2 separate regions of the Homo sapiens genome follow, and region 2 is linked to region 1. Evidence: fine-mapped expression QTL. Tissue or cell type: whole blood. Region 1 holds a variant in brackets; the other region holds the start of a gene. All regions are shown on one strand. Distances are between the middles of the regions.

What was found. PIP is the estimated chance that this variant, and not a neighbour inherited with it, causes the effect.
Region 2: VEGFA starts here. The variant in region 1 is fine-mapped to the expression of VEGFA in whole blood (TOPMed, PIP above 0.99). The same link has a PIP of 0.9 or more in blood mononuclear cells and monocytes.

What each region holds. Positions count from the first base shown.
Region 1 is chr6:43,722,654-43,727,847 of GRCh38, reverse strand. No RefSeq gene overlaps it. Among named protein-coding and RNA genes, the nearest start is that of MRPS18A, 37 kb to the right of the region's middle. RefSeq lists an enhancer at 2,818-2,907. The variant C/A (reference allele first, on the strand shown) is at 2,491.
Region 2 is chr6:43,767,789-43,772,913 of GRCh38, reverse strand. VEGFA (vascular endothelial growth factor A) reads right to left here and starts at 2,703. Exons shown (of 8, transcript NM_003376.6): 1 at 1,602-2,703. The coding sequence starts at 2,207. RefSeq lists enhancers at 1-746, 747-1,512, 1,513-2,278 and silencers at 734-1,253, 1,324-2,263, 2,641-2,890.

The DNA.
Region 1 (5,194 bases):
ACCAGCACTCTGAGGTCCTTTGCAGCACTCACCCTTTCCAATCATTTCCATGCTCCTTTGTGCTCATGTGTGCATTCATTTATTCATTCATTCATTCATTCAGCAAACGTATCATATTCTAGTCTGAGCCCATCCTAGGGTCTGGGACTACAAAGAAAATCATGGCCTGGGCCTTTCTTCAAAGGCCTCACTCACTCATTCATTCATCAAACATTTACTAGGGGCCTCCTCTGGGCCCACACCTACATATTCTGTTTCTATCCTCTCTTGCCTTTGGACATGAAATAATTATTCAGGGAGTCATTTCCCAGAGATTATTTCATTTCCAATCTTCTTCTCATGCTTTCCGCCCTGTGTACCCACTCTGCGCACACACCAAATCACACAGAGAAACCAAAACAGAGATCCAGAAAGAATATTCTCCCACATCTCCTGTGGCTGAAGACTTTCCACTAGTTCCCAGAGTCTGGAAGGAAGAGCAACAGCAACTGAGTCCTCTGGAATTTTTTTCCATTCATTCATTCATTCATTTATTCACTCAACAAACAGTTTACTGAGCACTGTATCTGTGCCAGGCCCTGTGCTAGGAAGTGTGGGGGTAACAGAAATGAATAATCACAGAGTGCACCCTCGAGGAGTCTCCATTCAGTGGGCCAGTGGCTCATTCTTTCCACAAATATTCACTGAGCTTCTCTAAAGCATCAGTTAAGCTTTGGGAATGTGAACAAGAAAGATGAAGGCCCTGCACTCAAGGAGCTTGCTATCTATGAGGCGATGTCTCGTGCTGTCTGTGAGACAGACAATGGGCAAGTAAGCAAACCAGTAGACCACTGTTTTTCCAAGCAAGGCTCCGAAGAAAATAAAACAGGGTGATAGGACAGTGACTGAGGTTAGACAACACAAGTGAATTAAATTTGAGCAGGGCACTTACTTGCCTTCTCTGGGCTTCAGTTTCCTCAAGGAGAACAATCATATCCATCTCCACCATGGGAAGCAAACGAGTTAGTATATGTAAAGCCTGGAACATAGTGAGCACTATGTAAGTGTCATCAATTATTTATTTTTCCCAGGGAAGGGGAGGGTGGAATGGAGGAGTCTCACTCTGTCACCCAGGCTGGAGTGCAGTGGCATGATCGTGGCTCACTGCAGGCTTGACTGCCTGGGCTCAAGCAATCCTCCCACCTCAGCCTTCTGAGTAGCTGGGACTACAGGTGTGCACCACCACACCTGGCTAATTTGTTTACTTTTTGTAGAGATAGGGGTTTCATTATGTTGCCCAGGCTGGTCTCAAACTCCTGGACTCAAGCAATCCTCCCGCCTTGGCCTCCCAAAGTGCATCATTTGTTATTTTTAGGTAGATGCATAAGCAGATCATCAAAACATTAGGTGGTTAGTGCAGAATAAGGCAATGTAGATCCAGGGCATCCTGGGAGCACTGGAGAGGAGCCCCAACGTGCCAGGTACAGCCCAGCCAGGGAAGAGAGTCAGGACACTGGGCATAGATGCCCTCCCTGCGTCACCTAACCCTGCATCCCTGGAACCCACTGGCCACCCCCAAGGATGTTGCCTTTCTGAAGTGCTGGAGCAAGTGGAGAGGGGCAGAAGAAATGCATGTGCCCCACCTCCCTGCGGACAAGAGGGGAGAGAGGGTACACAGGTGGCCACAGGCAGGCAGAATAGGGCCTGCTTTCATGGGCCACCTCCTCCCAGGACCCTGGCTCTCCAAAGTGCCTGCCACCCTGTCTGGTGATAGAAATGCTGGGGAGTTGGGAGGAGGGCGGGTGCCCTAACACTCAATCCACATGGAGCAGAATGAAGGGGCAACTCCCCTTTCATGGAGTTCTTTCCTAGACCCTAGAGTTCAAGAGTTCAGGACTCCTGTTCACAGGAGCACACTATCTTTCCACCACTCTCAGCAGGGAGTATCACTGCCCCCACCTCTTAGATGAGTACATGGAGGCTGAGAAGGGACACTGATCTTTCTCAGTCACTCAGTTCAGAAGTGGCAGCGGAAAGTCAGCATCTGGGCTGGCTGCAAAGTGGCCACTCTTCTTCTCCTTCCCCGTTCTGCTTCTCCCAATTTGGGGTGCCCAGGAAAGCCTATTATGTAGGGAGGGCAGGGCTGTGAGACTCAGGGGAGGTGGGGGAGTGAGAGGCAGATATTGCTGTGTAAAATGACCTGGATCTGTGGTGAGGGCTCCAGGATTGGTGGAGAGAGCAGGGTACAGAACTGGGTTGGGGGGTTACAGCCAGGAAGAGATGGAACCACAGGGAGGAAGCCCCGCCTGCCCCCCATCCTCATCACAATAGGCATCGTGGCAAACAGAAGGAGGAAGGGGCAAGGCCCCAACCCCTCCTCCACAGTATCACCTGGCCAGGCAGCCCCATTCCCAGCCCTGCGCCCACAGGGACCAGGATGTGGGCAACTAGGGATAGACAAGCCCTGACGTAGACAACTCTGCGACCCCCATGCCTGGCCTCCTTAGCCAC[C/A]AGCCAAATACTCTTTGTGGTTTGGGCACCGGCCAAGCGCCCACACCCCAGCTCACGGGACCACAGCTTCCCTGTTGCATCAGGTTACTGAGCGCGTGCACACGCCCCAGAGCCTGTTACACAACTGTGGTGCGCGTGCGCAGCACCCACACACCCTGGGTGGCTCCACAGTCCCACAGAAGAAACCGCAGCCTTGCCTGGAGTGCACAGGGCCCGCTCCAGACTCTTGGCATTGAGAGCTGGAGATGGGGGTTAGGGGGAGGAGGGTGCCTGGTCTGGGGCCAGGATCTGTGAGCTCCACCACTGGCTCATTGTGAAACACCAGTAAGTCATGGCCCCTCTCTGAGCCTGTTTCCCCACCTAGAAAGGAAGCTCACCTTCCACCCTGATGATCTACATACCCAATTGCCCTCTGCGCCCCTCAACACCCTCCAAACCACCACCACCATCTCCCTTCCTGTAGGAATGTCAGCAAGAGAGGGAAGCAAGAATCTGCACAGAGAGGAGACGGAGGGGTGGATAAGATGACCTCTAAAAGGGCCCTTTCCTCTTGGGGCTTCTCCCCAGTAGAAGTGGGTGTGCCTTGAGGGGAGCTCCATCATCACCCTTTCTCCAGGAAGACCGAGGACAGTGGCCAGAGCTCTTTTGAGAAGAGACTAAGGAGCAGGAGGCAGGGGATGGGTAACTTTCTTCTGGAGGCAGGGGATGGGTAACTTTCTTCTTTGTAGTTTTTTCCCCCACTTTTCTACAACAGACATGTGTCACACACTACTTGCAATGGGTGGAGGAGGGAGTGTGTTGGGAGGGCAAATGCTCTTGGGGAAGGTTAATGTATCAAGCACACCCCCTTTCCCACCCTTAAGCCAGCATTTCCCTAACTATGTTGTGGCAAACGGGCTCAAATAAGCACAGGAAACCTGAGTTAAACACAGTCTAACAGGTTTTCTTGACTGCAGGACTTCTCTGAGCCTCTAACATGCTAATCTGGGCTACAACCCTCAGAGACGAGGGACGAGACAAGGAAACGCATTTAATCTCAGAGCTCTTTATAGGGGAGCATCTCAAGATGCACTTACTAGGCACTGCTGGAACTCAGAGTCCGGTGGCACGCCAGGCCCACACCCCATTGGTGAAGAGCCTCCATGGAGGAGAGACAGCCTAGGCCCCGGAGGACACCAAGGGCAGATGCCCTAGGCAGCTACCTCCCACTGCGTGAGTCCAATCCCAATCCTTCTCCCCAGAACTGGTCCAAGACCTGTATCCCAGTTACGAAGGCAGGTAGTAATGTGGGAGGGCCCATGGGTGGCCCTGCCGCTTCCCTGAAGTTACTTAGATCTGCAGTGACCCCTGCTGGCTCTAGCCAAAATCACCCCTCCCCTTACTCCTCACCTTCCTCCTTGCCAATCCCTGGCCCTCCAGCCTCTTCCTCATTAGCCTTGACGCAGCCCCATCAGGACCCACCGTGACCACACCCAAACACCAGATCCTTTATGCTTTCCTTCATGCCTGGGGTTGGAATCTGGCCAGGCTTTGACTGAGCAACATGTTAGTGAGTTCTGAGGCCTGTGCTGGGGAGGCCCTGATGGCATGAGGAAGAGGGCTCCGAGGACAGCCTGACCCCTTATCAAGGGCACAGTCACCCGCATGGAAGTTCAAGACCACTATCATAACAGCAAACATTCATTGGCTTTTTCAGGAACAGAGCTGAATCCTTTATGTCGAGTATTCCATTTAATTCTCATAAGAATTCTACAGGCACTGTTCCTGCATTGATCCAGTTTTCCAATGAGAAACTGAGGCTCAGAAGTTTAAAAATTACCAAATGGCAAAACTCAGATTCAAATCTGGATTTCTGGATTTGAGCCCACCCGTTCCTTCCCCGTGCTATTTTGCTCTTCTTGCTTCTGCCCACCCCTCAATCCACCTACAGTGTTCAAGTGTAGTTTTTTCTGCCCAGTGCCCGTGGTTTTGGGGAAGATGACTCAAGTGGACTTGCCTCATGTCCTCCAAGCATGGCCTTGTGAGCAGACCTAGCCAGTCATTATACCCTTCCCCCTAGTCAACGGGAACACAGATTGGGTTTTCATCCCCCGGAACCCATTCTTTCTTCTGATAAATAGCCTCTTGATTTCCTCTGGGCAGTCCCTACACTCTCAGTAAAAGTGGCTTGGATGGAAATGACTCCATCTCCCTGTCTCCGTGGGAAGATTCAGACCACTCAAGCACAGAAAAAAAAAAAAAAAAAAAAAAAAGTCCTATCCATAGTGATTGGTTCAGGAAGGACATATGACCAAACCAGGCCCATCAGAGTCAATCCTGGAATTTTACTGGAGCCACTGGGAAGAAGAATGGCTTTCTGCTCTCTCCGAAGTTACTAAATGGGTACGTATATTCCAAGAGTTTCCAGGAGTACTGCCTAAGGAGAACATGCGCGAGAAGGAAGCCCACACAGAGGAGAGCAGAGACCAAGCCCTGCAGACATTGTCCGGGCTGTGCCAAAGACAGACTCACCCCTGGACTCTTCAGTGATATAAGCCAATAAATTACTTTTTTGTTGTTGTTTTTGTCTTAAGCAAGTATGAGTTGGGTTCCTGTCCTTTGAAACAAAGATCTATCGAAGCCTCCCCCCATTATTCCTCATTGTTAACAGCTGTGTTTCCTTCTTGCCTTTTTCTCCCATGCTTACACAGACATACTGGACACT
Region 2 (5,125 bases), 45 kb before region 1:
AGGGGCCAGGTGTCCTTCTCTGGGGGCCTCTGAAGGTCACACTGTGGCCAGGCAGCCACTCCTCCCCCTCCTCCCTACTTGGAGGCCTGTAGCCAAGGCCTTTGTGCCAGGGTCTGAGGAACTTGCGGTGTTAGCAGCGACCCCTGTCCATGGCTTTCCTCTTGCCTCCTCTCCAAGGGAATTCTGGCTGAGGGAAGGCGTCAGAGAGGAGCGGAAAGGGACCCTTTAGAGTCCCTTTCAGAAGCAAGTTGGGTGGGCAGGTTTGGAGTTCCAAAAAAACACCTGCTCCAGGGCTGCCTTTCACCAGGACAAAGTGTGTGCAAGGCTGGCAGGAGCTCCTTTCCAGGGTTCAGGAAGGACTATTCCCATGCTGCCCGTGTCACAGCAAATTTCAAGCCATTTCTCCAAAAGGGTAAAGTGGGGCAATGACTCTTCAAATCCTCCCTTGACCCACCCCCACGAGAGCTAAAGCACAGCTCACTCGGAACTGTTGGCGAGGGAAGGGAAGCACACTGTCACCAAGTCGGGACTTTCGGTGGAATGTGACAAAGCGCCCAGTGGGCTCCCGCGCCACGACTTCTGACAGTGATCATCCTTTCCCTGGACTCTGGGGCCAGAAAGGGGTTAGATGGATCTTCTCCGCAGAGAGAAATGAAAATAAGCGGGGTGACAGGGGCTTCTCTCCAGGCTAAAAAGGAAATGGGTGAAGAGAAGGGGCGTCAGGAAATTCCTCCTAGCACTGGGCAGAGGTAGGGTCTGGAGACAGTAGGAAGGGGTAGGGATGGTTCTCTGGATCCCCGGGCTGGGGCTACCTCGAGAGGTCACCTTCCCGCGGAGGGCTGGCGGGGGGAGGGGTGCCGCTCGCCACTCTGGGCTCCCCATTCGGGCAGCCGAGGCTCCGGGAACACGCGGCCGGCCAGGCCCGGGCTGATGTAATCGGCTCCGCGCCGCGCGCACCCGGCCGGGCGGGGGAGGGCGGGCACCGAGCGGGACGCGAGCGGGGACGGGCGGGGTTGGCGCGGCGCAGGTGGCCCAGCAGGGAGGGGGGGTCCCCGCAGCAATCCACCCCAAAACTTTTCCCAAACTCGCGGCGAGGGCTGAAGAGACCGAGTGGCAGTGACAGCAAGCCCCCTCTCCCTCCTGCGCCCTGCCCCCTCCACGCTCTCTGCCCTCCCGCGGTCCAAGGTCCGAGCACCCCCTGCCCACTGGTCTCTGGCTCCCGCCCCCGCTGCTCAGACTTCCAGTTCGTCCGGGACCAGCGGCCGGGAGCAAACTTCAGCCGGCAGCGGCAACGCAAGCCCAGCCCCCTCGGCCTCCTCCTCCGGCTCCCGCCCTCGGCTGGTCGGCCCAGATCGTACGTGCGGTGACTCCGGTGGGTGGGCAGGGCCCGCGTGGGCGGTGAGCCTCTCTCCGGGTACCCTCCCACCTAGCGCGCGCGCCCCCTCCCCCTGCACCTAAGACGACAGAGGGGGACGCCGCACGCCTGGTGCCCATGGACCCGCGTGGGGCACGGAGCCCCCACGCGCGCGCTCGCACGCACGTCCCCAGCCGGGAGAGGCGCTCGCAGCGGCCCGCGGCGCCAGCAGGGCACGACCGCTTACCTTGGCATGGTGGAGGTAGAGCAGCAAGGCAAGGCTCCAATGCACCCAAGACAGCAGAAAGTTCATGGTTTCGGAGGCCCGACCGGGGCCGGCGCGGCTCGCGCTCCCTCTCCGGCTCGGGCTGTGGGGCGGCCCGCTCTCCTCGGCGCCTCGGCGAGCTACTCTTCCTCCCCGGCCCGAGGCCCGGGCCAGGGCCTGGGGAGCGCGCGCGGCTGGAGCACTGTCTGCGCACACCGCCGCCTCACCCGTCCATGAGCCCGGCTTCCGAGCGCCGAGTCGCCACTGCGGCCCCCTCTCCTCTTCCTTCTCTTCTTCCTCCTCCCCCTCCTCCGGCTGCGGCTCCTCCCGGCCCGAGCTAGCACTTCTCGCGGCTCCGCTCGGCTCGGCTTCCCCCGCGCGGACCACGGCTCCTCCGAAGCGAGAACAGCCCAGAAGTTGGACGAAAAGTTTCAGTGCGACGCCGCGAGCCCCGACCCCCTCCACCCCGCCTCCGGGCGCGGGCTCCGGCCCCTGCCCGCGGCTCGCCGCCGCGTCCACTGTCCGCCGCCGGCCGGGGAGGAGGTGGTAGCTGGGGCTGGGGGCGGTGTCTGTCTGTCTGTCCGTCAGCGCGACTGGTCAGCTGCGGGATCCCAAGGGGGAGGGCTCACGCCGCGCTCCGGCGGTCACCCCCAAAAGCAGGTCACTCACTTTGCCCCTGTCGCTTTCGCTGCTCGCACGCCCGCGCGCTCTCTCTGACCCCGTCTCTCTCTTCCTCGACTTCTCTCTGGAGCTCTTGCTACCTCTTTCCTCTTTCTGCTGGTTTCCAAAATCCACAGTGATTTGGGGAAGTAGAGCAATCTCCCCAAGCCGTCGGCCCGATTCAAGTGGGGAATGGCAAGCAAAAATAAATTAAAACGAGAAACAATACAGTTTTAAAAAAAAATGTTTAAGAAAAAAGAAGAGGGATAAAACCCGGATCAATGAATATCAAATTCCAGCACCGAGCGCCCTGGCCGGTGAGTCCGCTGACCGGTCCACCTAACCGCTGCGCCTCCCGACAGAGCGCTGGTGCTAGCCCCCAGCGCCACGACCTCCGAGCTACCCGGCTGCCCCAAGCCTCCGCGATCCTCCCCGCTACCAGCCGACTTTTAAAAAAAAAAGGGGGGGGCGCATGGCTCCGCCCCGCCGGGACCCCGCCCCCGGCCCGCCCCGGGGGGCGGGGACAGGCGAGCCTCAGCCCTTCCACACGCGGCTCGGGCCCGGGCTCTGCGGACGCTCAGTGAAGCCTGGCCCGCAGCCCGCCGCAATGAAGGGGAAGCTCGACCCCCACCAAGGTTCACAGCCTGAAAATTACCCATCCGCCCCCGGAAACTCTGTCCAGAGACACGCGCCCGCGGGGCATTGGCGAGGAGGGAGCAGGAAAGTGAGGTTACGTGCGGACAGGGCCTGAGAGCCGTTCCCTCTTTGCTAGGAATATTGAAGGGGGCAGGGGAAGGCGGAGAGCCGGACAGGGACGGGTGGGGAGAGGGACACACAGATCTATTGGAATCCTGGAGTGACCCCTGGCCTTCTCCCCGCTCCAACGCCCTCAACCCCACACGCACACACTCACTCACCCACACAGACACACACGTCCTCACTCTCGAAGACGCTGCTCGCTCCATTCACCCAGCTTCCCTGTGGTGGCCGAGCGCCCCCTAGTGACTGCCGTCTGCACACCCCGGCTCTGGCTAAAGAGGGAATGGGCTTTGGAAAGGGGGTGGGGGGAGTTTGCTCCTGGACCCCCTATTTCTGACCTCCCAAACAGCTACATATTTGGGACTGGAGTTGCTTCATGTACAGAGAGCCCAGGGCTGGGCACAGGGGCCACAGTGTGTCCCTCTGACAATGTGCCATCTGGAGCCCTCATCTGGCCTGCAGACATCAAAGTGAGCGGCAGCCAACAGGCTGGAGTGACTGGGGTCCTTTGGGAAGTGTCCAGGGATGCTTCCCAGGGGAGAAGAATTTGGCACCAAGTTTGTGGAGCTGAGAACGGGAAGCTGTGTGGTTCCGGGGTTAGTCAGTGACTGGGAGGGAAGAGGACCTGTTGGAGCCCACGTATGCACTGTGGAGTCTGGCAAAACCCAAAGGGGGAGGCAGCTGGGCAGACAGAGGCCCTTGTTCCTGCTGCCCCCCCAACCCCAGATGTTGCCAGGGAACTGAGGCCAGGGGGCTGGTGGGGGCGGGTGGAGGCCAGGGCCTGCGTGATGATTCAAACCTACCCGCCAGCACTAAGGAACGTCTGTAGGCCAGCTGCCCAGAGCTCCCACCAGGCCAGGGGCCAAGGCTTCTATCAGCCCAAGCCCAGACTCATAGCTCATCTTCTGAATAGAAATGGGGGTTTCGTCTCAGCTCCCCCATTCCCTCAGGATCCCTTGGCTACTTCTCCAGGCTCACAGCTTCTCCCCTATCCTTCCCCCAGTCCCCTCCCTTACCTCCAAGCCCCCTTTTCCTCCAACTCTCCACATCTTCCCTAAGTGCTCCCAAAGGCCCCATCCCATTCTTGCATATAGGAAGCAGCTTGGAAAAATTCCTAGCTGGTTTCTGACCTGGCTATTTCCAGGCTGCCCCAGGGAACAAAGTTGGGGCTCTGAGGCCTGTGGGAAGAGTGGGACCAGTCAGTCTGATTATCCACCCAGATCTTGCCAGGGTCTGGCCTACAGCTGGCATAGCCTCTGTGGAGGCATGGACTGAGAATGGGAATGCAGCAATTTCCCTCAATTTAACCAAAACGCTCCAGGGAGCTTACCTAGTCAGCCCCATCCTCAGCACATGTTGCTGTGGTTTGGTGGAGGTGCTAGGTTACCTCCCCAGTACCCCCAGTTCCATCGGTATGGTGTCCTAAGGCCCTTATGAGGAAAAGGGCTGGCTCCCACCCACCCCAACCCTCCCTTTCCATCATTCGTGCACTAGTCCTGTCTCCACCACTTGGCAGGCTCCCCAGCAGCAGGGACAAGGTCTTTGTACAGTTAGTAAATGTTTATTTCCTGGCTCAGGGCCCCCTCCCAGGCAGGCCTCCTCACCTGGGCTCCATGCTCTAGGCTGATGAACGGGATATGGAAGGGAAGCCACTAACTTTCCTCCTTGTGCGCCTCTAGCACCCCAGGAGCACAAGCTGTAGACATCTTGGGGCAGGATGGAGGCTCTGAGCCCTAAGGGCTCATTCTGGCCCCCTCCCTTGCATCCCTTCTCAACTCGGCCTTCTTCAGCCCCTAAAAGAGCCAACAGACCTGAAAGAGCAGGTCTTAGTAAAAAACAAATAAACAAATCTGAAGCTAAGAGGAGGCTGGAGGGGTTCCAAGGAGGGATAGCCATCACCAGTCACTCCGTGGCCCCAGGCACCCCCCACCCCCATAAGCCAACTGTCCTCCATGGTGGTACCCAGCAAGGTGTGTTACAACAACCTGTTTGTGTTTCCCTCTGGGGCTTTGCCCAGGGATCCAGGGGAGTGAGGGCACAGAATTCCTTTTATATAAGGCTAGGATTACAACCTGGCCTAGGGGTTT